Linked DNA regions of Homo sapiens. The protein of the gene in region 2 purifies or fractionates together with the protein of the main gene of each other region. This does not show direct contact. Each region holds a gene or a part of one and is shown on either strand. Other genes may lie near its edges.

Region 1 (4,169 bases), on a different chromosome or scaffold from region 2:
TTGATAAATTCAAATGAAGACAGTCATATTTATCACCTTAGGACTCTTCTGTAAATATGTCACCTGCCTTCTCCTGCCCTATTGGAAGGTGACATGACATTCCCTCTCCCAGCCTTTGGTGTCTCCTTTAGACAAAAACAAACAAACAAAAAACAAAAACAAAAAAACGTCTTATAGAAGGGGGCTGCTTAGAGCCTGGAGCAAGCCACTCAGAATGTAAAACTCAAAGCTTGCCTGGTCACAAAGGCAACACAGTACTGAGGCATGATTCACTTGGAAATTATAATAGAGCAAACCACCTTCCTCCTTAGTAGGATTTTTGAATAAGTCATAGCAAATAGTACCAAAGCTCTTGAATGATGCCCTGTGATTCTTCAAGAATCAAACCCCTTCAGACAGTGGCCTATTAATTCCCAGAAACCCATGTTGAATGATAAAGTGAGATGGGGCGGAGGAGGGATAAATGTCTAGCCAAGAAAACAAAATTATCAGTTTTCTAAACTCGGAGTTAAATTAAGTCAACCCTGAGAAGGAAAGCTGGAACTTTAAGGTCCTTCTAGGATGAACTTTTAACACTGGAGGATGTGAGACCTCTCTACCACCCAAGGCCATTTTTCTTTGGAAACATGCCCAGTTGTGACAAAGCTAGACAACAGAAGCACCCCGCCCCTCCTCAGGCACCCACCCACCCAAGAGCTGAGCGCACTGGTCTTTGTTGCCCTTTTTAGAAGCCTCCAGGACTGTTCTCTGAAGCAGGTTTGCACAGCAGTAAACATTGAGTGACATCCTCTTTCAACGCTGCATTTGTGATCTGTGAAGTACCAGTCCCAGCATTGGTTTAACGCCTATAAATACACTCCGTTGTCCTATCACTGGTACTTCCTACTTTGTAAGTAGCAAAACAAAAATAGGTGATCCAATCCAAATTAATTTCCATGTCTGACAATTACATTTCCAAACAGCCAACATGGAACATGTTCTATTGATCCTACAATCCAGCTCTAGACAATATGAAAAAGGGGGGAAAACTCCAAATTCAGCATCTTGAACTTAAAAGACCCTTCAGAAACATCACCTTCTCCCCACAACAGTGCTGAAGTAGCTCAGGCCCACTCCACCTATGTTTGTTTCTATCCTGGTACATTCCAATTCTATCAAATCAAAAGGTTATTCCTATTAGGCAGAAGCTGAACCCATCCCCTTGAATAGGGAGGTGTTCATTACATCTGTCTGTGTAATGAACTTGTCATTTCCCCAAACGGTCTGGACAGTCTCCTACAAAAAAAAAAAAGAAAAGAAAGAAAAAAATACTCCATGGAATCTATGGTGTGTCAGTCCCCTTCCTAACATCTGAGTCAGACTACGTGTGTCTTTACTGAGGTTCTGGGTGCCCAGGGTGTATCACTTTCAGAATTGCTTCAGTAACTGAACTATGGCTGTCTTCCAGCCACGGACAACACAAGCACTATCTATTTTAAAACAATTTTCCTAACCCACCGGCAATGGAAGAGATCCCATAGGTCACCGACTTCCTATTGAAAACAAATTATTTCTCTCTCAAACTGCTTGCCGTCTCTCAGAATTAATGCGTGTTTATGTGTGCATATTTTTATCTTTGGCCATGCAACTCTTGGAGCAAAGAGGACCACCCCAAATTTTACCGACATGCCTGAGCCATTCAGAGCTTTAGAAGAGAAATGAACGAGTGCTGAGAGCCCTTAAGCCCAGGACTTCTCTCACACAAACAGTAAGTGGAAAGGAAAAAACAAAAACAAAAACAAAAACTAACCCTCCGTAGAGGGAGGGAGCAGGGTGGATGATAGGGAAAGGACATTAACCAGCAGACCAAAGGCAGCCGCGGCGGCGGCACTTCGCGAACTGCCTGCAGAGGAGAGTGAAATCTGTTTCGTGTACAATAACCAAGCACCCTCTGGCTGCCTCGCATGGGCACGAATAATAAATACACCGAGGTGGGCAAACAGATGCAACGAAACGAGCCACCCCAAAAAGGTCAAAACTTCAGAAATCCCGGGGGTCAAACCACCCACACAAACACATCAATCAGTCGGAGCGAGAGAAGGGACTTGGATACTTAGCAAAGGATCCTAAATTGTGTTTTTCCTTTCAAGCTCTGGCTTGCAAAGTACGGTGGCTACATGCAAAGCTAGAGGAGAGCAGGAAGGCTGAGGGCGGCAGGGTGCGGGTGGGAAGGGAGGGGTGTCTAACACCAGCCACCCAGGCCTCGATGTGACGAAAGTCGTCAGCAGCCCCGACCACATCCCAGCCCCTCCGCCCAGGCCGGCAGACGCCCCTCGCGGCTCCCCCACCCCAGCTTCCGTCCCTGGCAGCAACCCCGCCAGCCCCGCACCAGCAGCAGCCCCGGCCCGGGCCCCGCGCAGGCAGCGCCACGACCGCGGCTCCCATCCCTTCCGTGCGGCAGACACCCCGCAGGCCTCCCTCCCTGCCCACCCGGGGATGCCCGGGTAGCCGAGCCGGGGCGGGCTGCACCGCCAGCTCCCCCCGCCCCAGAGCAGGCAATGGCTCACACTTACCTTGGGCGTTCGCGGGGGGGCTGAAGGTGGCAAGCCTCCCGCCCCCCGCCCCTGTCCTCCTCGTCTTTTTTCTTCCTCCCTCCTCCTCTTCTTCCTCCTCCTCCCCACAGTGTGTCCGGGGCTCCCCCTCCTCCCCGCCGCTTGGAGTAAGAACCCAAAACCCCGAAGCCGGGCCCGCGTGCAAGCGTGCGGGAGGCGGCGGCGCGCGGCCAGCTCTCCAGTAACTGAGCGCGGCGCGCAGCTCCCAACTAAAGTGTGAAAGAAGCAGCGGCCGCGGCGGCCGCGGCACGGAACGTCCCCCCGGGAGTGGGCAGGGAGCGAGCGGGAGCTTGCGAGGAGCGAGCGAGGGAGGGGAGCTCCTCGCTCAGTCACTCACTCGAGGGGCGGGGGCAGCAGACACTCCCCCACCGCCGGCCCCTCCCCGAGCCTAGCTCCCGCGCGCGCCTGGCTCTCCTCCCCGGGGCGGGGCCTGCGGAGGCCGCCGGGGCGCAGCGCGCTGGGGAGCGGGTTGGGGGCTGCTAGGGCTGCGGGGCGGGAAGGAGGCGGCAGTGTGTGTGTGTGTGTGTGTGTGTGTGTGTGGGCAGGTGTGTGTGTGTGTGTACGTGTGTGCGCGCGCGCCCTGCAGCGGCCGGCCAGCCGGAGGGAAGACCCCGGCGGGAAGACTGCGTCCCGTCCGGCCTTCCCGGGCCTGTCACTTGGGCGGTGGCGTGGGAGCGGCGAGGCTGCTCGGGGGGCAGCCGGGTGGGCCCAGCTCTAGGGGAGATTCGGGTCAGCCCCTGAGCCCAGCCTCCCGGCTGTGCCTGCTGGAAGCAGACGGAGGGAAGGCCGGGCGTCTTTGGCCCACCGCGCGGCCGCTCCCCTCCCGGGCCAGGCTGAACGGGCGGGCGCAGCCCAGAGGCCCGGGCTCTGCCACCGATCCGCCTCCATACTGACCCGAGCTGCGGCGCCTGCAAGATTAATGAAGCATCCGCGATTCGGTAGAGGCGGCACGGGGAGGAAAGACACAAGATCGTGCTGCCCCCCTCTCCCCACCCTTCTCAGCCTCCTAGGACCTAAAGGCGTAGGCTGCGTCTGCTGGGCGCGTCCGGAGTGGTCCAGAGAGATCGCCATCCACCACTGCATCCGTCCAGTTCTTTGTGGACCCTCACAGAAGCTCAATCAATTTCCCACCCTCTGGAAAAGGGTATTTTTCTCTTCCCTGGCATATTGGGTGTTTCTTGTGTGCACCTAATTGATCTTTTTCCATTGATAGCCTTTGGATGTCTTTTGTGCGGCTTCCCCGCGCTTCACTGCTCCCTCATTGCCTTAGACACGCGAGGAATGTCAGGCCCCCAGAGTGAGAACACCCAAGAAAACAATAGGGGCAAAAGATCCTCCCTGGGCCTCGCGGATTATGCACAAACCAGATCATTTCCCACATTCGGCCAGGGTGAAGATGGAAAATGGAAAAGAACGCCATCAGAGTGGTGACACTGACGAGAAAAGCCAATTCATAATTTAGTTTAATGAAATGAGTTAGTAATCAACCACTAATGTCTAGGAAATTGGCCTTTTTTGAAAACTGGTTTTCCCTTTCTCCACCCCTTTTTTTTTCAAATTAAAAGACTAGTATCCCAC
Region 2 (3,592 bases):
TAACAAGGTGAACCAGGCATGTTAACAACGTGGGCAAAGATACAGACATGGGACAGCACGAATATATCCAGAGAATGGCAAGTTGTCTATTTTGGTTGGAAGGCAGAATATGCAAAGAGAATTAACATAGTACATGGAGAGGCTGGGGTTAATCTGCAGGGGCTTTTAAATACCAAACCAAGAAATCTCTACTTATAGACAATGGGAACAGGTGAGTAACATGAATAAGATTGTACTTGAACTAGAACGCCTAGAGGTAGGGCTACAAGTTAGGAATTGATTGCAATCAGCTAAGTCAGAGATGTAATGAAGATATAAATTAGTGGAAGGAATAGAACAGGACTCATGCAAGCTACATCACAAAGGTAGACCCTGCTGGACTTTGAATCATCCATCAAGCAGTGGATAAGAGCAGAGGCTTTGGAATCTCATTGCTTGGGTTCAAATCCTTGCTTCTCCCCTCGCTGGCTGAGTGATCTTTGCAAATTTAACCTTTCAATGTCCTCATCTATAAAATGTATAAAATGAGGGAAAACACAGGCTGGGCAACACAGTGAGACCTCATCTTTACTAAAAATAAAAAAAATAGCTGGGAATGGTTGCACACACCTGTAGTCCCAGCTACTTGGGAGGCTGAGGTTGGAGGATTGCTTGAGTCCAGGAGTTCAAGGTTAAAGTGAGCTATGATTACACTACTGCATTCCAGCCTGGGCCACAGAGCAAGACTCTGTCTCTTAAAAGAAACAAAAAGGGGGAGGGGGAATAATCATATATCCTACCTCATAAGGTTACCTGAGCATTCAAATGAGATAATATTTGTAAAGCACTGAGCTTAGTGCCTAGCACATAAGAGGACTTTGTAAATGTAGCTATTATTACTATTATTATAGAAAAATTGTAGAGGTAGTAGAGCCTTTAGAAATGATGTAATCCAATCTAATATTATACATGATACAACCAAGGCTGAAAGAAGTTATGCCAATTTAATTAGAATGCATTTCATAAACTTCTACTATACACAAGCAACCTTCTCAAAACTAATTAACTACAAATCTGTGTGGCATTATGCAAAAGAGTAAAAAATATCTCCATTAAACGTACGTAAGAGACTTGTGGTACCATCAATAGAAGGCAGAAAAATGGAAGGCTTCAAAAATCCAGGACTTTACAGGTATAACAGTGACTGGCCTGTGTATCACATAATACTGCTAAGGCTAAATGAAACAAAATGAAGCACAGAAGAAAATCTAGAAACTAAAAGTTAATAGCCAAATCTGGATAAATGTTGAATCATAGGTTAGTTCATTAAACTTTTCTCTCAACTTCTGTATAAAAATTTTCGAAAATTTTCATAAGAGAAAAAATGTAGAGGCAATAGCAGTATTGAGAAATACTAAAATAAAAAACTAAGATAAAAAATAGCCGGTAGTCCCAGCTACTCAGAAGGCTGAGGCAGGAGGATTGTTTGAGCCCCGGAGTTTGAGTGAGGGACCATCTCTTAAAAAAAAAAACAAAAAAAAAAAACATAAAAAATAAATACACCATATACAAAAATAACTAAAATAGATCAAAGACCTAAATGCATGGGATAAAAATAAAAAATACGTCAGTCTTGTAAGAAAACACAGATGTAAACCTTTGTGCCCTTAGATTAGGCAATTTTCTTAGATACGACTCCCAAAACTCAAGCAACAAGAGAAAAAAAGATAAATTGGACATCATCAAAATTTAAAAATATCATGCTTCAAAAGACAGTATCAAAAAAGTGAAGAGAAAACCACAGAATGGGAAATTTTTGCAAATCATATATCTGATCATGGACTTTTACCTAGAAGATAAAGACCACTCACAACTCAATAATGAAAAGACAATTAAATTTAAAAACTGGCAAAGGATCTGAACAGTGATTTCTCCCAAGATGATACACAAATGGCCAAATAAGCACCAGAAAAGATGCTCAACATCATTAATCTTCAGGAAAATGCAAATCAAAACCACAATAACACACCACTTCACATTCATAGGATGGCAATAATTGAAAGGGCGGATAATAAGTGTTGGCAAGTACGTGGAGAAATATGAACCCTCATACACTGTGTGTAGAGCTGTAAAATCGTTATAGTCACTTTGGAAAACAGTCTAGCACTTCCTCAAAAGGTTAAACATAGAGTTACCACATGAACCAGCAATCTATGTCCACAAAACAACTTGTACACAAAAGTTCACAGTATCGTTATTTATAATAACCAAAAAGTGGAAACAACTCAATGTTCATCAACTGATGAATGGATAAATAAAATGTGGTATATCCATACAATGGAATATAATTCAGTAATGAAAAGAAATAAAGTACTGGCTGGGCATGGTGGCTCATGCCTGTAATCCCAGCACATTGGGAGGCCAAGGTGGGTGGATCACTTGAGATCAGGAGTTTGAGACCAGCCTGGCCAACATGGTGAAACCCCGTCTCTACTGAAATACAAAAAAAATTAGCTGGGCATGGTGGCAGGGGCCTGTAGTCCCAGCTACTTGGGAGGCTGAGGCAGGAGAATGGCGTGAACCCGGGAGGCGGAGCTTGCAGTGAGCCGAGATCCCGCCACTGCACTCCAGCCTGGGCGACAGAGCGAGACTCCGTCTCAAAAAAAAAAAAAAAAAAAACATAAAAATAAAAAATAAAAGCTTCCTTCCTGGTTCCACTAATGCGCAGTCCCCTCCAGGAAGATTTACCCAATCAATCCAGGCTGGTTTGAGTGCCCTCTCCTCTTTGCTCCCATGAAACTGTGCCTCCCTCTAGTAGAGCAGGTCTCACATTATAAACAATACTTAAATAAGTTTCTCTCACTGGACCATAGAAGCCCACTGATGGGGTAGGAACTGTATGTGTAGCCCTAGTATGTAGGTACAGTGTTCAATAAAGGTCTGCTCAATAAAATAAAGCTTCTGAAAAGACCAACATTTTGTCTCCCAGACCTTGAGACCACGGGAAGTACCACGAGGAGCCTGTTTACTTAGTACATTGATCTTTAGTAGCTAAAGTGTGTCAAATACTCTGGGTACAGAGTCCTGTTCTTTCCAAGTGTTGAGCTTATTACTTGTAGGTTTTTTTAAAAGACTGAGTTCAGGCCAGCCTCAGTGGCTCGGTGGCTATAATCATATCGCTTTGGAAAGCCCTGGCACAATAGTCCTAGCTACTCAGGATGCTGAAGTGGGGGGCCAGGACTTACAGGTTACAGTGAGCTACGATTGAGTCACTGCACTCCTGCCTGGGCAACAAGTGAGAACCTGCTTCTGTGGGAAAAAAAAAACAAAGACTAAGTTCAATAAAGCTTTAACTTAGAAAATCAAATCTGTACTTACACACACGCATATAAGTGTGTGGTTTTTTTTTTCATAGCCCTTATGCAGGACACATAAGTATCTTTTACCTACTTTTACACATTGATTCTAATTCTTCAATTGCTTGTTCAGTCTCCTGAATTTCTTGGTAAATGGCTGCAAGAGGTGCCAACTCAGCATGCCTTCTGTTCAAGGACCTTCGGTTTTCCTCATTCACAGGGATATGCTGCAGACATTGCTCAAGTGTTTGGTACTC
Region 3 (3,592 bases), on a different chromosome or scaffold from region 2:
TAATATTCATCTCTCAGCACTTAACTGCCTTGTGTGGGATGCCCTCCAATATCAAGATTCTGACATAAAGGTACTCATTAAATCATAAGCTGCAATTTGCTTTTTTAACTTTCTTATACAGACTTTTTTTTTTTAAAGGACTTATAAGGCTTTTTTATGGACTTGGCCTAGTGCCACACTCTGTATAGACACTTATAGGAAATGGATGAAATTCATTCTCAACACTGTCACCTATTACCTTTCCAAAATGTAAATTTCATTCTCCTCTCTGCTTGAAGTTCTTTATTGGCATTCCAGCGCCATCATAAAGCTTTAGCATTATAACCAAGGTCCTCCATGATATGCTTCTCTTACATTATTGATTATTCATTCACTTTACAAATATTTACTGGGCACTTACTGTGTGCCAGGCACCGTTTTGGCCTGATGATGGTGACTCGCAGCAGGAGTAATAACAGTTGTGAATTGGACTCTAGATCTATTATGATAGTAGTACCAACAGAATTTCCTGATGGACTAATTATGGGGTGTGAAAGAAAAAATAAAAATGGTTCCAAAGTTTCTGGCCTCAGCAAGTAGGATGGAGCTGCCATTAAAAGGAATTAGACTTGGCCAGACGCGGTGGCTCACGCTTGTAATCCCAGCACTTTGGGAGGCTGAGGCAGGAGGATCACGAGGTCAGGAGTTTGAGACCAGCCTGACCAACATGATGAAACCCCGACTCTACTAAAAATACAAAAATTAGCCAGGCGTGGTGTCGCGCACCTATAATCCCAGCTACGCAGGAGGCGGAGTGGGGAGGAGAATCACTTGAACCCGGGAGGCGGAGGTTGCAGTGAGCCAAGATCGTGCCACTGCACTCCAGCCGGGGCAACAGAGCGAGACTCCATCTCGGAAAAAAAAAAAAAGAATTAGACTCATTAAAACCCTATGTTACAGCAGAGCCAATATAGCAAGACCCTGTCTCTACAAAAAAATTAAAATTTTGCCAAGTGTGGTGGCACATGTCTGTATTCCCAGGTACTCTGGGGGCTTAGGTGGGAGGATCACCTAAGCCAGTAAAGTGGAAGCTGCAGTGAGCTATGATTGTGCCACTGTACTCCAGCCTGGGCAACAGAGCAAGACTCTGTCTCACAAAACAAAAACAAGCAAACAAAAAAAACCTCTGTTATACAGATATTAAAAGGGGCAAGACATCCCTAATACATCTGGTGCTCTAATAAAGTTACCTTAATCTGCACTCCCAGAATGCCAATTTAACATTATCACTGTACTCACAGTCTTGTATTTAATGGCCTATGATTTAATTCTTGTGTGTATCCTGAGGGCAAATACTATCTTCAAATCTCTAGAACCAAGAAGGGCCTGGCCTGTCTCTTTATATAGGTTTAGTTGAATGCTCTTTGAAAATAAAAAGCCATCCTTTTTTTTTTTTTTTTTTTTTTTTTTTGAGGCAGGGTCTTACTTTGTCACCCAGGCTGGAGTAGTGGCGCGATCTCGGCTCACTGCAGCCTCGACCACCCAGGTTCAAGTGATCCCCCTACCTCAGGCCCTCAAGTACCCTGGACTACAGACAAGTGCCACCACGCCTGGCTAATTTTTGTACTTTTGTAGAGACGGGGTCTCACCATGTTGCCCAGGCTGGTCTCGAACTCCTGAGCTCAAGCAATCTGCCTGCCTCAGCCTCCCAAAGTCCTAGGATTATAGGTGTGAGCCACCTTACCTGGCCAAAAAAAAAAAAAAAGCCATTTTTTAATAAGAAAAAAATCTCTACCTCCAAAAGCTGGTATGATATATTGGGGAAAAAAGTTGTCTCTGTCTCTTAGACCTGCCTCCATTTTTTTTTCTTTGAAGAAATTAGATGGTGTTTTATGCTAGCAAGGTCACTTCTCTCAGAGATGTCTAAATCTAAAAGAATGTGATATAATGGGAAAAGAAAGGTATTCATGCTTTTCTCAGTCTTCCACAGGCTTAGAAAGTTTCATAGAGGAATAATGTTTTTCAGTTTGACCATAAAAGAAGGTAGAATTTTTCTCATTCTTTTTCTCTAGGAATAATAAATAAAATAAAAGAGATGGGAGAGATAGGTACTGAACAAATCATAAAGTTAATGTACCTTTTACATAAGGAGTTTGAAATCAACCTAAAAGTAACAGAGATCTAAGACATAGACGGACAATATCAAATAAGAGAATTGGGTTACAGGGAGCTCATTCAGAAAATGAGGAAGAGAATAGGTTGGGTAGAATCAAAAGGGCTGAGGGAGCAAATGGGTAAAGTCTTTATCAAATGGATAATCAAGCTTTAAGGTTTCTGGCTTACAACAATGGTGCTGTCATTCCTGGACAAAGAATATTAAAGAACAGGATTTCATTGGGAATATTAATTGAAAATATAATTTGTTACACTTGAAGCAAATAGATTAAACTATTAGGCTTTTAGTTCTAAGTTATTTGTTCGCTAAGTGATAGCAAGAAAGAACTGCTACAACTCTAGTCAATTATGTACTAACTTAAACTGTTATCTCAGTGTTATGGTGCTCTACTTCATCTCTATTTCCAGACTATAAGGGCATATTTTCTACTTATTTTATCTCCCTTCTTAGTATTTAGTACAATGCTACTCACAGAGTACACACACTAATTCTGAATTCTATGAAGTTAAGACATCTTTCTATAGAGTCATCACCATTCTCAACTTTCTCTGCAGCTAAAATAAATTTAAAACATTATGATAATGTTTTATTAAACAGTTCATCAAAGTCAATAAAAAATCTTTAACATTTAAGTTATATGCTAACCTGGAGAGCACGTTTCATTTTGCGATATAACTTCAGACTCATCTTTTTCACCCGAAATATCCTCTTCATCAGAGAGGACCAGAAAGGCTTCTTTTGGCAAACTCTCACTACTTTCTTGTTTAGATGGTGAACCAAAAGAACTTTCCATTTTCTCTTCCAAATCTGGATTTGTCTCATCGATTGGAAGGAGAGATGTTTTAGAAAAGCAAGTAAGTTCATCCTCAGAAGGTGCAAGCTTTTCCAAAATAGGAATGATTTCATCTGTCTCCATAGAGTCTGTATTTTCTAAGATATTCTCACTTTTGTTATCTTCAATAACATTTTCATTAATCGTTTCTACAAGATCTGCAGAAGTTTCATCTTCATTCTTTTCACCTTGGTCAATTTCCATACTGCTAGATATAGCATCTTCTCCAAGAGCAAGCTCTGTGATAATATCTTCCTCTACCTTCTTTTCATTTTCAGGAGGTCGATCTGAACAAATAGTTGTATCATCTGTTTCTAGAGTTTCTTCATTAGCATCAATATTATTATCAGCTTTATTTTTCTCATCCAATGAGTCTTTACTCTGAATTTGCTCTAATTTTTCATCAGCTCCATTTTTTTCAAGAAAATCATCATCTTTATTGCTACTTGGTTCTATATTGTCAATTTCAGGAACTGGTTCACAAACTGGTACAGACTTTGGTTCAAAGGTACGATCAAAGGTTGATTCAGAAGTCAGCTCATCAGAGGCCAGTTCACCAGTGGCCAGATCATCAGAGGCCAGTTCACTAGAGGATAGATCACCAG
Region 4 (3,592 bases), on a different chromosome or scaffold from region 2:
TAGTTTTAGCATAAAAAAATTTTTTTTTTTGAGACGGAGTCTCGCTCTGTCTCCCAGGCTGAAGTGCAGTGGCGTGATCTCGGCTCACTGCAAGCTCCGCCTCCCGGGTTTTATGCCATTCTCCTGCCTCAGCTTCCCAAGTAGCTGGGACTACAGACATGCACCACCTATGCCCGGCTACTTTTTTTTTTTTTTTTTTGTATTTTTACTAGAGACGGGGTTTCACCGTGTTAGCCAGGATGGCCTTGATCTCCTGACCTCGTGATACACCCGCCTCCGCCTCCCAAAGTGCTGGGATTACAGGCGTAAGCCACCGCGCCCAGCCAGCATAAAAGTTTTTATAAGTTCTAACTAAAATAGTGGAGTCATATAAGGTTGTTCACATTAAAAGCACTTCTTATTTAAGGTTCAATATTCACTTGCTAACTGAAAAACATTGCTAAATTATTCCACAGATGTTCAGGCCATTCTGAAAAAACATCAGAATAGAGTGAAAAAACTCTTGATGCACCAAAGCAACTTTAACAAGCCATGATCTTCCTTCTCACATCCTAAAATACCTGGCCATTAATATTTGAAGAGGGGAAAGCCACACGATAAAGCATGCCTATAATATGCATCATGCTTAGTTCTCTAGAAGAAAATAAGAAGATCAAATTCTAGGAAAGAGGGAAAAGTAACTCTGTGAGATTTGTGGGAGGTGAGGAGGGAATTCAAAGATTGAAACAGACTATAAAAATATGTGATCTTTTACATTTGTTGAAGCAAAAAATCCAGAAAACAAACAACAAATGAACGAATACATGTTTAGACCAGCCGTCTTACCTGAAGAGTCCTTGTTTAAAAAGATAAGCACTAATATGACCCCCTTCTAAGTATCGGATTTCACAACCAGGCCAAATTTCTTGTAAACTTCGAACTCCTGTTCGTGGAATATAGGCATCTTCTTTGGCTTGAACCACTATAATGAGGCTTGGATCAACTGGGACTAGGTATAGGATTTTTAAAAATTCAACATATACACATTAGAAAATAAAAAAACCCACACAATGCAGTAAATAAAACATTCGTCAAACTAAACATTTTTGATTAAATTAAAAATCAACTATAATATGCTACCTTACTCATCTCCAGTACGAGATAAATATTCTAAAAATGATACAAAATACTGTGGTTTTTAAAAATTAACTAATTTATTTCTTTTGTGTGGGTGTGGGTACACAGTAGGTGTATATATTTATGGGTTACATGAGATATTTTGATACGGGCATGCAATGCATAATAATCACATCAGAGTACGTAAGGTATGCATCGCCTCAATCATTTATTTTAAAGATGGGATCTCACTGTATTGCCCAGGCTGAAATGCAGTGGCTATTCATTGGCAAGATCATAGTGCACTACAGCCTTGAACTCCTGGGCTCAAGTGATCCTCCCTCCTTAACTTCCTGAGTAGCTGGGACTACAGGTGAATGCCACCACACTCAGCAATCCAGTGTTTTTCTTTTGGGAGATAAGAGTTTCACTTTGTCACCGAGGCTAGGGTGCAGTGGTGCAATCATAGCTCAGTGCCACCTTGAATTCCTGGGCTCAAGGGATCCTCCTGCCTCAGCCTCTGAGTAGATGGGACTATAAGCATATGCCACCACACCCAGCTAATTTATTTTTGTTTTTGAGATGGAGTCTCACTCTGTCACTCAGGCTGAGTGCAGTGGCATGATCTCTGCTCACTGCAACCTCCACCTCCCGGGTTCAAATGATTCTCCTGCCTCAGCCTCCTGAGTAGCTGGGATTACAGGCACACACCATTACGCCCAACTAATTTTTTATATTTTTGGTAGAGATGAGGTTTCACCATGTTGGCCAGGATGGTCTCAAACTCCTGACCTCAAGTGATCCACCCGCCTTGGCCTCCCAAAGCACTGGGATTACAGGCGTGATCCACTGGGCCCGGCCACCCAGCTAATTTTTACATTTTTGATAAGGACAGGGTCTCACTATGTTGCCCGGGCTGGTGTCAAACTCCTGGGCTCAAGCGGTCCTCCCACCGCAGCCTCCCAAAGTGCTAGGATTATAGGCGTGAGCCACTGTGTCCAGCTCCAGAGTGTGTGAGAGTGTGTGTATGTGTGTTTGTGTGTGTGTGTGAGAGTCTTGCTGTCACCCAGGATGGAGTGCAGTGGTGTGATCTTGGCTCACTGCAACCTCCAACTCCTTGGGCTGAAGCGATCCTTCCACTTCAGCCTCCCAAGTAGCTGGAACTACAGGCTTGCAACACCACACATGACTACTTTTTTGTATTTTTTTTTTTGGTAGAGACAGGGTTTTACCATGTTACCCAGGCTGGTCTTGAACTCCTGGGCTCAAGCAATCCACCTGCCTCAGCCTCCCAAAATGCTGGGATTACAGGCATGAGCAACCACACCCGGCTGTCCAGTGTGTTTCTTAATGAATAAGATAATCTTAAATTTTCATAGATAGAATATGATACATTTAAGTAACCAACTTATCTTTGCAAACATATTCTGGAGCCAACAAAAAAATATACCCTTGAAAATATAAAATTATCTTATAGAGCATCTTTTAAAATATTTCACAAATACTTACACATCAGCAAATATTCTCAATTTCATATAAAAATTAGTACCTGAGAAATTTGCTACATGAGTACATTCATCCATGACTCCTTTCATAAATATTAAAGACTCTTTCCGAAGACTGTTTCTGCTTTGTTCTTTACTAAGTAGGTGGTATGACTGAGGGTTGCGACTTGTATAACCACTTTTGTTGGTTGAAAGTGTTTGATTGAAGCGCTTCATCTTAGAGGTATCTTGCAATAAGAGTCCTTCTGATGTCGCACTGACAGATGTTTTGCTAGAATTATGGCAGTCAGCAGGTTTTTGGGATACAACTTGGTTTGATATATCTAAATTTAAAGTTCTGGAAACCAGATTAAGGTTAGTTAGCTTGTCTGCACTGCTAGTGAAGTGTTTCACAAACTCTTGTCCCATTTTGAAAGAATCTGTCTGAACATATGAAAGGAAAGAAAACATTATTTAATATAAAATAGGGTATTAACAGCTTTGTCAAAAAAAAAAGAGAAAAGACAAATGTCCATCAATGAATAAATGGATAAATAAAATGTAGTATATTCAAACAATTAAACATTATGCAGTCTTAAAAGGAATGAAATTCTGACACATGCCACAACATGGATGAACACTGAAGACATTATCTTAAGTGAATAAGCCAGACACAAAAGGACAAATATTGTATGATTCCACTTGTATGAGGTCCCTATAGTAGTAAAATTCATAGCGATGGAAAGAGAATGGCAGTTGCCAGAGACTGGGAGAAGGGAGGAATGAATAGTTTTGTTCAATGGGTAAGTTTCAGTTTGAGAAGATAAAAATGTTTTGGAGATAGATGGTGGTGATGGTTGCACAACATGTATATACTTAATGCCACTGAACTATGCACTTAAAAATGGTTATGATAGTAAATTTTATGTTGTATATATTTACCATGACTTTTTTAAAAAACAAAGATGTATTAAAATTTAACTCACGACTAAGATAAATGACTTACACTTTAT

The links. Proteins that work in one complex are often made in the same cells at the same time.
Region 1: the proteins of MTRF1 (region 2) and C1orf21 purify together in Homo sapiens (affinity purification with mass spectrometry; one large-scale study listed by BioGRID and IntAct). This does not show direct contact.
Region 3: the proteins of MTRF1 (region 2) and ATF7IP purify together in Homo sapiens (affinity purification with mass spectrometry; one large-scale study listed by BioGRID and IntAct). This does not show direct contact.
Region 4: the proteins of MTRF1 (region 2) and ABHD18 purify together in Homo sapiens (affinity purification with mass spectrometry; one large-scale study listed by BioGRID and IntAct). This does not show direct contact.

What each region holds. Positions count from the first base shown.
Region 1 is NC_000001.11:184,385,752-184,389,920, reverse strand, and holds the start of C1orf21 (uncharacterized protein C1orf21), read right to left. Parts: upstream 2,893-4,169; 5' UTR 2,553-2,892; intron 1-2,552.
Region 2 is NC_000013.11:41,257,064-41,260,655, forward strand, and holds part of MTRF1 (peptide chain release factor 1, mitochondrial), read right to left. Parts: coding exon 3,430-3,592; intron 1-3,429. UniProt on the Homo sapiens protein: Mitochondrial peptide chain release factor that directs the termination of translation in response to the peptide chain non-canonical stop codons AGG and AGA.
Region 3 is NC_000012.12:14,424,682-14,428,273, reverse strand, and holds part of ATF7IP (activating transcription factor 7-interacting protein 1), read right to left. Parts: coding exon 2,801-3,592; intron 1-2,800. UniProt on the Homo sapiens protein: Recruiter that couples transcriptional factors to general transcription apparatus and thereby modulates transcription regulation and chromatin formation. Can both act as an activator or a repressor depending on the context.
Region 4 is NC_000004.12:128,027,906-128,031,497, reverse strand, and holds part of ABHD18 (protein ABHD18), read right to left. Parts: intron 3,024-3,592; coding exon 2,645-3,023; intron 989-2,644; coding exon 826-988; coding exon of another isoform or gene 822-825; exon of another isoform or gene 1-821.